Regions from separate parts of the Homo sapiens genome. Here all the other regions are linked to region 1. Evidence: fine-mapped expression QTL. A gene starts in region 1. Each other region holds a variant in brackets. All regions are shown on one strand. Distances are between the middles of the regions. Region 1 holds the start of SH3BP2 (SH3 domain binding protein 2). Region 2 overlaps SH3BP2 (SH3 domain binding protein 2). Region 3 overlaps SH3BP2 (SH3 domain binding protein 2).

Evidence for each region.
Region 2: its variant is fine-mapped to the expression of SH3BP2 in whole blood (TOPMed, PIP 0.92).
Region 3: its variant is fine-mapped to the expression of SH3BP2 in whole blood (INTERVAL, PIP above 0.99).

What each region holds. Positions count from the first base shown.
Region 1 is chr4:2,789,769-2,795,099 of GRCh38, forward strand. It overlaps SH3BP2 (SH3 domain binding protein 2), which reads left to right and starts at 3,317. Exons shown (of 13, transcript NM_001122681.2): 1 at 3,317-3,370. RefSeq lists a silencer at 3,035-3,384.
Region 2 is chr4:2,821,431-2,826,761 of GRCh38, forward strand. It overlaps SH3BP2 (SH3 domain binding protein 2), which reads left to right. Exons shown (of 13, transcript NM_001122681.2): 3 at 1,505-1,607; 4 at 3,183-3,300; 5 at 3,696-3,766. Among named protein-coding and RNA genes, the nearest start is that of ADD1, 20 kb to the right of the region's middle. RefSeq lists an enhancer at 4,519-5,331. The variant G/A (reference allele first, on the strand shown) is at 2,503.
Region 3 is chr4:2,829,068-2,834,398 of GRCh38, forward strand. SH3BP2 (SH3 domain binding protein 2) reads left to right here. Exons shown (of 13, transcript NM_001122681.2): 8 at 426-1,080; 9 at 2,504-2,612; 10 at 2,856-2,911; 11 at 3,264-3,345; 12 at 3,923-3,982; 13 at 4,630-5,331. The coding sequence ends at 4,767. Among named protein-coding and RNA genes, the nearest start is that of ADD1, 12 kb to the right of the region's middle. The variant C/T (reference allele first, on the strand shown) is at 3,286.

The DNA of each region.
Region 1 (5,331 bases):
CTGGTGTGATGATGGACACTGCCAGGCAAGCGCAGGAGAGGGAGGATGAGGCAGGCAGGGGCTGAGAAAGGCAGGATTCCAGGTGTGCTTTGCCAACAGAACCTTCAGGGCGGACGGGATGTGGGGCGAGCAGAGAGGCATCAGTGCGGACGACTCCAGGGTTGCTGGCCCAGGGAAGGAAAAAGAGACTTGGCAGGCGCATGAAGCCCCCTGCTGGGACGCCTGTGACACGTAGACCAGCGGCAGATCTTGCCCTCGCCATCCTAACCGTCAGCCTCACCCTCAGCAGGTCCTGCCCTACCCCCCAGACAGCAGCTGCCTCTGCCTGTTCTGGGTCCTGCCAAATCAGTGGCATGGCCGATGGCACACGGGGGATGGGTGTGGCGGGGGACCGGCCCCCTTCTCTTTGGCCTTATTCTGTGGGTGTGATTGGGGCATCACCATGGGCTTCTACCCCGGATGTGCCCTGTGGAGGTCTGCTCCCCAGCTCCCTGCCGGCCAGGGGTCCTCGCCTTACCTCTGCTCACCTGCCCTGCATACCCTCCCAGCAGGCGAGGTCATCCTCCTCACCCATCCCTGCTCTGTCAGCCTCAGCGGAACCCCTGGGTGCCCAGAGGCTCTGGCCACAGCCTCCAGCAGCTTCTTGCTCGGAGGGGCTGCTGGGAGCTGCCCTGAGGCCCCAACTAGGAGTTCCTTCCTCCCACGCCCTGGGGTTGGACTGGTAAGGGGGGAGAAGGGGAGGAATATGAGGTGTGGGATTCTCCCCACGGTGGAGGCTGCACCCTGTTCCCCCTGTTTGGCTGAGGTGCCCTGCACAGAGGTGCTTTGCATTTCTGGGTGATCATTCTCTAGGCGCCTGGTCCGTCCACACTGTCTGCAGTGACCCTGCTCCGTCAACTCTGAGCTTGGCATCTGAGGCCAGCCCTGTACACCCTGCCCTGTAGTCAGGCCCTGGCGGGGCCGCACCGACGTTTGGCTTTGCTCCACTCCCCTCCCGGTCTCTGCCCCTTTCCCCAGCTGGTCCCCTGGGAACAGGACACTTGCTGTGACCCAATGGCATCTGCTCATTTGTCCATTTGCTCCTCTCGTGAGCCACAAGGGTAGGGACTTCCTTGTATCATCTTGGGTCCCCGGGGTCTGGTGTGGGGCCAGGCATTTATTTAGCTGAACTGGACATCAGGGACATCAAGATGTACAGCCCCAAGGTCATGAGTGTTTTGTCAGGAGCCTTAGACCAGTCTGGCCCAGCCTGGAGCTCCCTCCGCATGTGGCCTCTTACAGGAGTGACGCAGCCCCATGCGGTGCTAACAGTGGCAGCACTGAACGTCGGATGGGGCTGAGCCCAGCCACTTCCACAATGGCTGTAGTTCCTATCTCTTCCTCCCTGCTAGGAAAATGTGAAATAGCCCAGAGTGGGGGGTGGGCAGAAGAGTTGCAGGCTACCCAATGCTGGGATGAGCAGAGTTGAGACCTGGGGAGCCAGGCCCAGGACACTTACAGGTGGGGATGTGAGCAGGCACCCCAGAGAGTGAGCACCCCAGCCAGCCAGCACCCATCTACTCCCTCACTGGGGTCTAAGTTCAGCCCCGAGAGCTAGGCTGTAGGTGGGTAGAGTCACAGCCCCAGCGCCGGTGTGAGGGGTGGCCCTGGGCCAGGTAGAGTGAGTATCTGCCTGCTGTCATGCCCCATCCACTTCTGCCGCCTCCCCAGTAGAGGACCCCCTCCATTTCACAGATGGGGAAAAGGGGCCCTGTTGTCTGAAGACTCTCCCATATCCTCCCCTGCCTCTGCCATCCCCTGCTTTGTCCCTTCCCTTCCAGAGGCCCTGCCTTGGTCCTGGTCACTTCCTGGTAGGCACTGGCTCTTCCTCTATGCCTGGGCTCAGGGCCTGGCCACCTAGTTTTCTGACTCCTCCCACTTACTCCCCTCCCCAGTTAACCTCTCTGATCCCAAGTGTGTCTCTCCAGCAGGGAGGAGGGCTATTGCAGCCAGGGATCCCCTTTCTGAGGCTTGGGACCCATTATTGGGCAGCTCTGGGACAGGTGGACGGTGACTTGGCCCACACTCGGTCCAGCTGCAACCCTGAGAACCCGCTTGGTTTGGCTGTGTCTCCTGGAGGCCCTCAGGTATTTCAACCTGTAGGACCCAAACCCAGTCCTTCACCTGCTGCAGGGCCAGCCCTGGACACCCCTGCCCCTGCCTGATTTGGAGCAGCCAATTCAGCCCCTGTCATTGGACTCTGGCCTCTTGTGCTCAGTACAGAGGGTCAGACCTTGGCCGCCTGCCTGGACAGGGCCAGGTCACCACCACCCACCCCCAGCTCCCTTGGGTTCCCAGCAAGATCCTGTCCTTCCTCTACTCACAGCTTCCTGGGCTCTGGGACCTGGGGTCCAGTCCCCACTCCTCATGGGGAGGAGTCCCCCCACGCCCCAAGCAGTTGACTCCCGCACTGGTGGGGGGTCCGCTCGCCCTCAAGCTCTGCAGGCCCAGCTTGGTCTCCCCAGCCTCTTCACTTTCTCCACGGCTCCCTCCACCTACCTGGCCCTGAGAGCTCCCCAGGGAAGCCATTTCCTCCCAGGAAGCCCCTCCTCTTCTCGCCCCTGCCCTTACACCAAGGCATCTGGGCCTACTCTTAGGGAGAGGGTGATGGTGGAGGAAAGGGAGCCTCAGAGGAGGCCAAGTGTAAAGCACCCGGTCTCCTGTGCCTCCCAGCCCCAAGACGACCTCTGGGCCACCGGAGTCCAGACCTGGTCCAAGAGGCGAGGTCCCCCTGGGAAGTGCCTGAAAAGTACCCTGGAGGACATTTGGAAACAAAGACAAGGTTTCCTGGTGCCCAGCAAGCCCTCCCCCACCTCCCCTGCTCCTGTCTTGGCCAGGGCCTAAGTCGCACTCACGGGGCAGGGGTGGGGCCGCCCAGGATCAGGACCACGGGGCTGGGGGGGTGGACAGCGCCCTTTCCACCTGGGTCGCTGGGCACTGGGGTGTCACTGGGAGGGACACGCAGGAGGGACAGACACGCTACCTCACTCACGGGCGAGAACTAAGCACCTACTGTGGACCCGGCGTCTAGGCCCGCGACAACGCCAGTCTTCGCCCCCCAGGGGCCTCGTCCCGGGGCCGCGGAGGCCACGTGCAGTTCCCCGCCCACCCTGAGGTACCGGCCCCGCCCCACGCCCAGCTCGGACCTCCAGGATTGCGGGACCCGCCGGGGAGGGGCGGGGCCGGGGCGGGGCCAGGAGGAGGGCGGACTGGGCGGGCGCGGGCGGGACGGAGCTGCGGCGGCGGCGGGTCCCGCGGGCGGGAGCGCCTGGCGGCCGAGTCAAGCCGCCGCCTCGACCCAGGGCCCGCGGGCCAGGAGAGCGCTCGGCGGGTAAGCCTCGGCGGCGGGTCTCGGCGGGTCTCGGGGGTCTCGCGGGGGGGCGGTCTCCGCGTCTGGAAGGGGCTCGGCGGGCCTTGGCGGTCTGGGGGCTCTCGGCGGGTCTCGGGGGTCTCGGGGGAGTCTCGGGGTCCCGACAGGTCTCGGCGGGTCTCGGGGGTCTCGGGGGAGTCTCCGGGGAGTCTCAGGGGTCCCGGCAGGTCTTGGCAGGTCTCGGGGGAGTCTCAGGGTCCCGGCAGGTATGGGCGGGTGTCGGGGGTCTCGGGTGCGCAGCAGCCTCCCCCGGGCCCCGGGGCCTCCGTGTCCTTGCCAAAGGACGCACGGGGCCTGGGCACGGCGGGCAGTGCCCGAGGGAGCGCGGCTTCGGGGCGGGGGCCGGGTGTCCCTTGCCGGGGGCTCAGGGGTGGGAGGCGGTGCGACGCGTCTGTTTCGCACCCCTCGCGCCCCTCTGGCCCCGCGGCGGGGCCCCTTTACGCGACCCTCCCCACAAGACTCAAAGGCTGCGGCGGGCACTCGCTCTCCGCCCTTCCCGGAATCCAAACTTCCCTCTGCAGCGGCCGCGCTTCACGGAGGGCAAGAAAAGCCGCCCACTGGCGCTGATTCACACTGAAGTGTGAGTGACTGATAGCCGGGCGTCTGAGACTCTCATGGGCAACAGGGAATCTCAGGGGTGGCAGAGGGACTGGAGGAGTTAGGGGGCGGGGACAGCCCCTTCCACCTGTACGCTGGCCTCCCTGCAGCCCAGCACTTTCCCGCTGCTCTGGGCCTCGGCTCCCTGGGGGTATTGAGGGCCTGAGCCCTGCTGTGGGGAGCCTTCTGCTGGTGCTCCTTTCCGTGAGCACCTCCTATCCCCTCTCTGTGCCTCAGTTTGCTCATCTGTTGACACTGGGGACAGCTGTGCCTCCTGGTCTAGTGGCCACACTTAAGTCCTTCGAATTGGCTGTGGCCAGGGGCGGGTACTCCGTGTGGGCTGCTGGGGTGGACAGCCTGCCTGGATGACATGTGTGTGGCCTTGCAGGTGACATGGGCCGGTGATGCAATGTGTAGAATTGTTTCCACAACCGCCTGAAGGCAGGGCCCACAGCCTCCTCCTTGCCGAAGCAAGCCTCTGGGTTCAGGTCAGCCCTGCACCAACTCCATGAGCCTGGACAAGCTCCTGCCCTCACTGGCTCAGGCCCTGTGGGACCAGAGGAGGGGCTGGGCTCCACCCCCTCCTGGTTCTTCCCACTCTGTCCACTGTCTCCTCTACGTAGACACCGTCGAAGGGCCCTCTTGGAGCCCAACCTCAGGGCCCCACTCCAGGCACTCCACTCCTGGCAGGACAGGAGGCCTGGGACGAGGGCTGCAAGGGAGTGAGGATTCTGTCTATCCCCTCTCCCTGCCACCCGCCAGGCTCCCTTTGCCTGGCTCTGTGCCCTGCGTTAGGCACACCCTGGAGGGGGCAGGCAGAAGGAAGACAGATAGGCAGCCGTGTCTAGGAACTGCCAGCCAGGGCCATCTGGTGAGAGGGGTGCTGACAGGGGACCTGGCCTTTCAGGGAGTCCCCAGGCCTCCAGGATCATGGGGGAGCCCACCAAGGAGGCTGGCCTGAAGAGGCAGACAGAGGGAGGACAGGCTCTGGGCCTGCCTTGGCCCTTTCTGCCCACATGGACAGAGGAAGCAGGGTGCTGAGTCAGCTGGAGCTCCCCACCCCCCAGGGATGCACGCACACAAGCAGGCCCACAGACGGGAAGTCCAGGGGCCCAGAGAGACGAGATGGCCAGCCTTGGTTCCTGAGGGGCAGGGAGGAAGGGCGCAAACTCAGCCAGGATCTTGGGTGTGAACTCAGATGCCACCAGTTTCCAGCTGTGTGATCATGGCCAGGAGGCTTCCCCCTGCCACCCCTCCGTTTTCTCATCCATGACCTGAGGGCTGTGAAGCACTTTGTACCTGGTGGGTGGCTATGAGTGTCCGTA
Region 2 (5,331 bases), 32 kb after region 1:
GCTTGTCCCCCAGCCTGGGACAGGGCTGGGGCAGTGGAGCTAGGGTGGTTTCAGTGTAACTTTCCACCTAGGGGTGGCCCCACACCAGTGGCTCTCACTGGCAAACTCTCCGGGCTCCTGAGTCTCCCTCTTTTATTTTATTTTTTCGAGACAGGGTCTTGCTCTGTTGCCCAAGCTGGAGTGTAGTGGCGTGATCATGGCTCACTGCAGCCTCAACCTCCCAGGCTCAGGTGATCCCCTCAGCTGGGACTACAGGCATGCCACTATGCCCTGTTAATTTTTTTTTAAATTTCTTGTAGAGATGGAATTTCATTATGTTGCCCAGGCTGGCCTGGAGCTCCTGAGCTCAAGCGATCCATCCGCCTTGGTCTCCCAAAGTGCTGGGATTACAGGTGTGAGCCACCGCATCCAGCCTATTTTTTATTTATTTTTGTTTTTTATTTATTTATTTTTTTGAGATGGAGTCTTGCTCTGTTGCCCAGGCTGGAGTGCAGTGACTTGATCTCAGCTCACTGTAACGTCCACCTCCTGGGTTCCAGCAATTCTCCTGCCTCAGCCTCCTGAGTAGCTGGGATTACAGGAGTGTGCCACCACGCCCAGCTAATTTTTGTATTTTTAGTAGAGACAGCGTTTCACCATGTTGGTCAGCCTGGTCTCGAACTCCTGACTTCAAGTGATCCTGTCTTGGCCTCCTAAAGTTCTGGGATTACAGGCATGAGCCACCGCGCCTGGCCTATTTATTATTTTTATGTCTCACTCTGTCACCCAGACTGCAGTGCAGTGGGTGCGAACACAGCTCACTGCAGCCTCGACCTCCTGGGCTCAAATGATCCTCCCACCTCAGCCTCCCAAGTAGCTGGAACTACAGATGTATGCCACCGTGTCCGGCTAAGTTTTGTATTTTTTGTAGAGATGGGGTTTCACATGTTGCTCAGGCTCACCCCATCTTTTATTTTTAGAGACAGTCTCACTCTTGTCACCCAGGCTGGAGTGCAGTAGCACGATCTTGGCTCACTGCAACCTCTGACTCCCGGGTTCAAGCAATTCTCCTGCTTCAGCCTCCTGAGTAGCTGGGATCGCAGGCGTGAGCCACTGCACCCGGCCTTAGTCCCCCTCTTTTAGCTCTGGGGTAGTGGGAGCCTCCAACAGCCCTGCAGCACCCAGCAAGTCAGCTGTGGCCTCCCTGGGCCTCTGGTCCTGGCTCTGCCTTGCCTCATGCTGGCTCCACACAGCCCCCCAAATCTACCTCTTCTTTGTGGGCAGCCAGGCCTGCCCTCGGGTGGCACTCTGGGGCTAGCCAGTGTGCCTACAATTTTTTCCGTATTTGGCCCCAGAGTGGGCTCCTGGGGAGGGGGCAGCATGCCAGCCTTGCTCCCTGCTCTTCCATTTGGTAAGGCTTAGAGGCAGGAGGCCTGGCCCCAAGTTGTCCTGTGGAGGGTCCTCACAGTGGGTCTTGGCAGCTGCCCCTCCAGGCTCACCTTCCTGCCCTTGCCACCTCCCACAGGGCCCCTGCGCTTTGTCATCATCCACAAACGCTGCGTCTACTACTTCAAGAGTAGCACCTCTGCCTCCCCGCAGGGCGCCTTCTCCCTGAGTGGCTATAACCGGTAAGTGCCCGACCTGCCTGCTGACCTCGGGCCCCCACAGCCAGCGGGTCCCTCCCAGCAGAGCCCCAGCTGGGCCTGCCCCTTATTCCCGCCCAAGGAAAGTGCTTTCCCGAAGCAGCCTTCGTGCCCATCCCCTGTCCTCCCCGCCCAGCCTCCACAGTGCCTCGCCCTCTCCGCGTGTCCTGCCCTCAGGCGCAGGACCTTGGGGGTGCCAGGGTCTTCCTGTGGCTTTGTGCACAAGTCCCAGAGGCCTGGACAGCCTGCTCTCCAGAGTCTCCACTCGGCCACCACCCAGTGACTTCTGCATCTCTCCTCCCTCCCCACCTTGCCCCTTCACCCACCATGACCTCTTTCCAGGCAGCCCAGACCCCAGCCAGCCCAGGCCCTGTCCCAAACAGAGGCTGGGCCCTAGGATTCCCTGCTCCAGGGTCCTCCCAGGCCGGGATCAGTTTCCAGCTTCACGCATGTCCTGGGCTGGGCTCTATCCAGTGATGGGCCATGAGCTGCCCTGGAGGGCCTTCTGCACTAACAGGCAGGTGGGCGGTGGCCAGGTGGCATGTGGGTGGGGGAGTGCACTGGCACAGCCCATGGCCTGGGGCCCACACAAAGGGTTAATGCTGGCACCCAGCTCTGGTTCTGGTTGCTATCCCATCGGAGCCCTGCACCCCACAGCATTTATCTATGCCTCTTACCACCCCTTAAGGGCCCAGCCCCTCCTGCCTATGAGGAACCAAGGGTCACATGGTATCAGTAGTGGAACTGGGACCTTTGGAGTGACTCTAGGCCCCGGCCTGCACCCTGGCCACAGGCCTGGTAGGGCAGCCTTGCCAGAGCACCCAGCCTGGTGCCAGGCCCCCATGCTGGCACAGAGCTCCGGGGTCCCCTGGGGAAGGTC[G/A]TTCCCTTTCTGCAGACAGACACAGCGCCTTCCGGCCTCCAGCATGTGCCAGCCATGCCATGAACCCTGGGCCCAGTGGCAGATGCAATCATGCCCCAGGGAATTGTCTAGCCCATCAGGGAATGCTGGGCCTGAGGAGTTTTGGCCAGGCTCTTATGGGCCGTATAAGTGCACCTGCCCCGGTGCCTGGCTGGCAGGGCTCCCCACGTGATAAACTCAGCGCAAACCCCACATCCTGGCTGTGTGAGTGGGCCGCAGAGCAGGCACGAGTCATTCCCTGAAATGCACTCAGGGCTGCTGCTGGGCCTCAGGGGCACGGAGCCCTGTGGGGTACCCCAGGGAGGCCAAGCAGGCCTGGGCAAATGGGGCCAGAGGTGGGAGGGTGGCGTCCATGTAAAGTGGCATTGGCGGGCATCGAGGCAGGTTTGTCCTTGTCTCCTGTGCACTGCTGCTCCCACGAAGCCCACCCAGCACCCCTCTTCCATGCCCCTCCATGCCCCCTTACGCCTGCCTGGGCATGAAGCTCACTACTGGGAGCATCAGCAGCCAGGGCCCACCCGATCTGCCCTCTTCCGTTGGGGCGTGGTGCTGGTGCCGAGACGTGTTCACAGGGGGGTGCTGTGGGAAGGCCATCCCTATAGCTGTGAACCAGGCCGTGACCCCTGGCGCTGTGCCCCCAGGGTGATGCGGGCGGCTGAGGAGACCACGTCCAACAACGTTTTCCCCTTCAAGATCATCCATATCAGCAAGAAGCACCGCACGTGGTTCTTCTCGGCCTCCTCCGAGGAGGAGCGCAAGGTGACTGGGGGTCCGAGGACGAGTGCAAGGTGACTGGGGGTGTGGGCCTGCAGGCACCAGGCTGGACCTGCCTTGGGGGCTCGCTGGTCCTGGGGCGCTGGCCTCTCAGCCCCGGGCAAAGAGAAGGTGTGGCTGGGACACAGGCAGCTGGGTGGGTGCTGCCCCAGCTCCATCCCCATGCCCAGAGCCTGGTGCCAGCGCCCACACAAGGAACATGCTGTCCTGGGAGGTGCCCCTGTGGGCTGAGGGGAGCCACACAGCCATGTTGTATCCAGCCGGGTCGCCTCCTCTGACCTTGGGAGTCACAGCAGAGCAGGCAGGGCAGTGAAGGTGGAGGGGTGCGGTGGGGCCCACCCTGGTGGCACCGTGCCCACCACAGCCCCGCTGACCTGCAGAGCTGGATGGCCTTGCTGCGCAGGGAGATTGGCCACTTCCACGAAAAGAAAGACCTGCCCTTGGACACCAGGTGAGCCCGGGCCCAGGGCATACCGGGCAGTGAGGGTCCCTGGGGCGCCTGGGCCTGACCCGGGTGTCCGCCTCCCAGCCCCGGGCTTGGCATAGAATTCCGTCCTTAAAGGTTTCCTGGAGGTGCCAGCTGGGCTGCGTCTCTCTGCTCCTGTCTACAGATAAACACAGATACAGGACAAGCACAGATGTTCACACACAGACGAGCGACACGCGGACACGCACACACAAACACAAGCAACACGCGGACATGCACACACACAGAGCAACACGTGGACATGCGCACACACACAGAGCAACACGTGGACATGCACACACACACAGCAACACGTGGACATGCACACACACACAGCAACACGCAGACATGCACACACAAACACAGAGCAACACACAGACATGCACACACACACAGAGCATGCACAGGTGTGCATGCATCTCTCTGCTCCTGTCTACCTCCAGCCCCATCTGTCACATCTGTTTCTGTGTTGCCGCCATGGGTAGTTCCTGTTAGGGGATCATGTGTGTTTATACGCCTGCCACCAGGGAGGCCTGGCATGGCAGCAGCTGGGCACTTTGGGTTCCCAGCCCCCTACGCCCACCCTGGCTCACTCAGAGTGAGACCAGAATGATTCTCCTGGCGGGGCGCCACTGGGCAGTCTGAGCCTTGGCAGCCTCCCCCGTGAGCTGGCCCGACGTGCAGCAGATACTCTCTGGATTGGGACTTCCTGGCCCGAGACGATGTGGAGGGAACAAACCTTCCTGTCCTTTCACAGGTGGGGACAGGAGGCCCAGGGAGGGCTGGGCACAGCCAAGGCTGCCCTGCAGGTCCCTGCCTGACTCCGGGCTCCCGTCCCCTGGTCCAAGCTGTTCAGCCTCGGGCCCAGCCCAGAGTCGCCCAAGCCCTCTTGAGGCAGGAGCAGGTGGAGACGTGGGCACAGTCAGGGCGGCCATCCTTGTGGGCCAGAAGGGGCACCTAGTGGAGGCACCACAGCCTCCAGTTCTTCTGTCTGTCCTTGTAACTGTGTGTGCATGTCCGCGTGTTGCTCCGTGTGTGTGCATGTCCGCGTGTTGCTCTGTGTGTGTGCATGTCCGCGTGTTGCTCTGTGTGTGTGTGTGCAATGTCCACGTGTTGCTCTGTGTTTGTGTGTGCATGTCTGCGTGTTGCTCTGTGTTTGTGTGTGCATGTCCGCGTGTTGCTCTGTGTGTGTGCATGTCCACGTGTTGCTCTGTGTTTGTGTGTGCATGTCCGCGTGTTGCTCTGTGTGTGTGCATGTCCGCGTGTTGCTGTTTGTGTGTGCATGTCTGCGTGTTGCTCTGTGTGTGTGTGCATGTCCGCGTGTTGCTCTGTGTGTGTGTGTGTGCATGTCTGCATGTTGCTCTGTGTGTGTGTGCATGTCTGTGTGTTGCTCTGTGTTTGTGTGTGCATGTCTGCGTGTTGCTCTGTGTGTGTGTGCATGTCCACGTGTTGCTCTGTGTGTGTGCATGTCCTCATGTTGCTCTGTGTGTGTGTGCATGTCCGCATGTTGCTCTGTGTGTGTGCATGTCCGCGTGTTGCTTGTGTTTGTG
Region 3 (5,331 bases), 39 kb after region 1:
TTCTGGATATGTTCTGAGCAAACACGGGCCTTCACCTTCCTCCCAGCTGCTCCCCTCCCCTGTCCTTGGGAATTCCGTCCTCCCTCTCGCTCCAGCCGAGCCCTGAGATCCTTCTTGACTTCTCTTCCTTTCTCTTCCTTCCACCTCTGGGAACCTGATGGGCTCCTCAGGTGTCCTCTAGGCTTCAGGAAGCGTCCACAGGCTGCCATAGGGAGGATGAATGGGGAAGGCTGGGGGTGGTGGGTGGTCTGGGACCCTGGGGAAGGCAGGATGGGAGTGCTGGGTGCTGGGCTGCTGGGTGGGCAGGCTGTGGGGTGGGCCTACCATGGGTTGCACTCCTGGTTGGCCTGGCTGACCACTGCCAGCAGAGGATAGTGTTGGCCCAGTCTCTGTCAGGGTCCAACCCGGGTCTCTTTGCTCTGCAGATGCCCTGATGCACCCACCGGCTTACCCACCACCCCCAGTGCCCACGCCCAGGAAGCCAGCCTTCTCTGACATGCCCCGGGCCCACTCCTTTACCTCCAAGGGCCCCGGTCCCCTACTGCCACCCCCGCCCCCTAAGCACGGCCTCCCAGATGTTGGCCTGGCTGCTGAGGACTCCAAGAGGGACCCACTGTGCCCGAGGCGGGCTGAGCCTTGCCCCAGGGTACCTGCTACCCCCCGAAGGATGAGCGATCCCCCTCTGAGCACCATGCCCACCGCACCCGGCCTCCGGAAACCCCCTTGCTTCCGGGAGAGTGCCAGCCCCAGCCCGGAGCCCTGGACCCCTGGCCACGGGGCCTGCTCCACTTCCAGTGCTGCCATCATGGCCACTGCCACCTCCAGAAACTGTGACAAACTCAAGTCCTTCCACCTGTCCCCCCGAGGACCACCCACATCTGAGCCCCCACCTGTGCCAGCCAACAAGCCCAAGTTCCTGAAGATAGCTGAAGAGGACCCCCCAAGGGAGGCAGCCATGCCCGGACTCTTTGTGCCCCCCGTGGCTCCCCGGCCTCCTGCGCTGAAGCTGCCAGTGCCTGAGGCCATGGCGCGGCCCGCAGTCCTGCCCAGGCCAGAGAAGCCGCAGCTCCCGCACCTCCAGTGAGTTTGTGTGGCGGCTGCAAGCCCTGCCTCCAGCTACAGGGACCCTGGCCTGGCCTCTGACGGGCACTCTGCCCACCTCGCTCCCCTGGCACTCTTAGCCCACGACGGGGTACCAGGTGCAAGGGTAGGAAGGTTCCCGGTTGCCTCCAGTCCGCCTTGGTGGAACGTGGAGCATGTCCATGACTCAGCCCTGAAGCTTGCTGGAAATGCTTTGTTTTTTTTTCTTTTTGAGACAGGGTCTCACGCTGGCAACCAAGCTGGAGTGCAGTGGTGCGATCTCAGCTCACTGCAACCTCCACCTCCGGGGTTCAGGTGATTCTCCTGCCTCAGCCTCCCAAGTAGCTGGGACTACAGGCACCTGCCAACACGCCCGGCTAATTTTTGTATTTTTAGTAGAGACAGGGGTTTCACTATGTTGGCCAGGTTGGTCTTGAACTCCTGGTCTCAAGTGATCCGCCTGCCTCGGCCTCTCAAAGTGTAGAGATTACGGGCGTGAGCCACCGCGTCCTGCTGAAATGCTTTCTGCTTTATTTCTGGGAAGTGCCAGGAGACCAGTTTGTCCCCCACTCCCACAGAGTTACGCCAATGGCTGTGGTCAAAGGCATCTGGGACCCCAGGTGGGCTTCCTGCCTTGCCTGGCAGGCAAAGGGTCCAGGAACTGGAGGGGCAGGTTTCGCATGGGTGTGCTGGCCGGCACGCGCACCCCCGAATGCCCTTGCCCACGGTGCCCTTCTCCCAGGGCTCTGCGAACACCTCTGAGATGCCTGCTGCCTGTGTGGAAGTGCCTCTGAGCAGCCCTTGTCACACTCGTGGTTCTAGTTCACCAAGGGCTGCAGAGATGCAGATGTTCGGAAGTCACGTTTTTCCATGACTGTGGGGATAGCGGTTCCAGGGCTCAGCCTCACCCACAGGCTGGCCTCCCATGCTGGCGTGGCCCGTTAATCCTCCCTAGAGCCTTTGAGGCTTTGCTGAGCAGGACCGGCTAGCCACACAGGGAGGCGTGCAGGGACGCCATGGGCGTCCTTTGGGGTCACACTGCATTGTTCATCCAGTTCACGTCCACTCCCCTGTGGCTCTGAGTGGGCTGTGATTTGGCCATGACCGGACCTCCCCTCCCCACGAGCATCCAGAGCACTTGTTGACGGTGTGATGACACTGAGCTTGGGAACCCTGGACTCCCTTGCCAGCATCCATGGCAGCCCTGACCCCTGACTCCGGTGTCGGGCGATTCCTGCTGTCCCAGGGCAGTCGGCACGAGCCCTACCCGGATCTCTGTTGTCCTGAGCTTTTTAGGGTCACAGGGGCCATAGCAGGCAGCTTGCCGTCCTCACACAGAGGGTGGAGTGGGGAGGGGAGCAGAGGGTGGCCGCCCCGTGTCTGACAGTGAAATGGTCCTGCCTTCCTCTCCCTGCCCCTCCAGGCGATCACCCCCCGATGGGCAGAGTTTCAGGAGCTTCTCCTTTGAAAAGCCCCGGCAACCCTCACAGGCTGACACTGGCGGGGACGACTCGGACGAGGACTATGAGAAGGCAAGGCTGAGCGGCAAGCCTGGGTCCCAGTGGCCAGTAGGTGGACAGGTGGTGGGAAAGCCATAGGCCAGGGCGGCCCCTCACAGACCGTCCTGAGCAAGGACCCCCCGAGAACCCGGGAGCCTAGGGGGACACAGCACCATGTAAAGCCCCGGATCCCGGCACCGGGTGGCCACCGTCCGGGGAGTGGTGGTGCGGGTGGATCACTCCGACGTTGGCACTGACACCGTCAGCCTCTTGCAGGTGCCACTGCCCAACTCGGTCTTCGTCAACACCACGGAGTCCTGCGAAGTGGAAAGGTCAGCACAAAGCCCTGTGTGTGCTGGGTCCTCCGCCATGCCCGGCTTCCTGCTTCTGTGTCCCTCTCACTAGCTTCCGTGTTGGGGAGTTGCTGGCACAAGTTCATGGCCCTGCGTGCAGCAGAAACCAGAGGAGTGGACCTCCCTGCTCTGTCCCATGCCCAGCTGGCACCCTGGCTGGCCAGGGCTCTGCTGGGCTGCTTCTGTCAGCCTCACGGCAGCCCGACGTGCTCAGCTCCTGAGACCTACAACAGCGAGAGGACAGAAAGCCAGGCTTGGGAGCGGGGCGGGAAGGTCCGTGTGAAAGCTGCCCGAGGAGGACTCACCCGCTAATATGACTGTCTTATTTTAGGTTGTTCAAGGCTACAAGCCCC[C/T]GGGGAGAGCCCCAGGATGGACTCTACTGCATCCGGAACTCCTCTACCAAGTCGGGGAAGGTAGGCGCCAGGGGAAGATGCCCCAGGGCCCCTCTGGCTCTCCACACACCCAGGCTGTGGGTGGGCCCAGGACTCCACAGTTCCTAAACCACTCCCCTTGTGGACTCTTACTTGGTGTCTCAGCTGAATTCTCTTCCCAGCAGCACCCCCCAATCTATTCCCTAATAGATCTCCATCTGCAAATTGGGGGCCATGATGGCCACCTCCCAGTGGGGGCCAGGACTCGGGTGGGGTAGGGCTCATGCTCTGGGGTGGCGGAGGCCACATGGGGCAGGGGAACGCCAGGTCTGCCCGTGTCCCTCCGAGCGTGAAGTTGTGACCTCACTGAGCCATGCTCTCCCGGGTGTGTCGGAGTGGTTATTGGTGGTTATGAGCTGTTGCTCATCAGAGGCTCTCTGAGGGCTGCCAGTGTCGCCCCCGCTGTCCTTGTGCAGGTGGTCTGGAGTCCCTCCCCGCCCCCCGAGGGCCACAGGACCCAGCCTTGATGGTTCTGCCCCCCTATCCCCAGCCCATGGTCTCCCGAGGCTGGTCCCGCTGTTTCTCAGGGAGCCGTCAGCCTCCCGCTTCCGTCCTGTAGGTCCTGGTTGTGTGGGACGAAACCTCTAACAAAGTGAGGAACTATCGCATTTTTGAGAAGGTGAGAGGGCTCTGAGTGGGACGGGGACCCTGGCCGCATGGCCTGGCAAGGGGCAGGGCAGAATCTCCCTGATGAGGCATAGGCAGCGGGTAGACTGAGACTGGCACCTCCAGGATACCGCCCTCCCCTTCCCCTCCACCATCGCTCACCCCCCACCCCTCCTGCTCAGCCTCCCTCCTCTCGTGGCCTACCTTTGTCCTCCACTGACCCTAGTGGGGATGGGCGGTCAGCCATAGACCCTGGGTTGCTTGTCTTGTCTTTTTCTTTTTGCGGGGACAGGGGTCTCACTGTCTTTCTCAGGCTGGTTTCAAATTCTGGGGCTCAAGCAATCCTCCCACCTCGGCCTCCCACAGTGCTGGGATTACAGGCGTGGGCCACCGTGCCTGGCCTAGGTTCATTTCCTGACCTTGTCTGAAGTGCTCTGGGTGCAGGCTCCTGGACATGGAGGACGGAGGGGAAGTGAGGTGGGAACATGGAGAGCACAGGCCTGATGCGGAGGCCACCTTGGGGGCACCACCGACAGCCAGGGGCCAGCCTGGTGATGCCGCTGTTGATGCTGCTGCCTTGTTTTACAGACGGGGAGACTGAGGCCTAGAGCCGCAGAGTGGCCTGGCCCTGCTGACGCTCCCCCTTCTCTTCCCCCACAGGACTCTAAGTTCTACCTGGAGGGCGAGGTCCTGTTTGTGAGTGTGGGCAGCATGGTGGAGCACTACCACACCCACGTGCTGCCCAGCCACCAGAGCCTGCTGCTGCGGCACCCCTACGGCTACACTGGGCCTAGGTGATGGCAGTCCATGTGGCTGCCAGGCCAAGGCAGTCACAGGGGCCCTGACCCCAGGCCACACAGACGGACATGGGCCCACATGGGAGGGTGAGCAGGAGCAAGGCTGTGCTTGCCTAGGGCCTCTGTGATGGACATCTCGTAGGACCCAGCCAGTCTCATCCAGCAGGTTGGGTTCTAGGGCTGAACCAGGCGCCAGGCTCCAGAGGACGAAGGGACTCTGTTGCCCCACACTAACTTGCCCTGTCCCAATCCCAGAAACCCAGGACCAAGCTGTGCCTGGGCTCCAAGGACAGGAACACTGGTCCCCCCATCACACTCACCCCTAAGTGGGCTGGGAGCCAGGCAGGGCCAGGGCAGCTGGGTGGGGGCCGGGGCTGGCCCTGGGACCCCCAGGAACGCTAAGACACAGGCTCCAGTAGGGGCTGTTGCCTCCAATAAAGCAGCAGTGAGCTTTGCCTTGGTGGCTGGGGCTTGATTGGGAAGGAGGGGATTACCAGCTTACTGGGTGCCCATGCTGATGTCTAAGTGGTGACCGCAGCAGTACCCGGGAACCCCAACAGTTGGT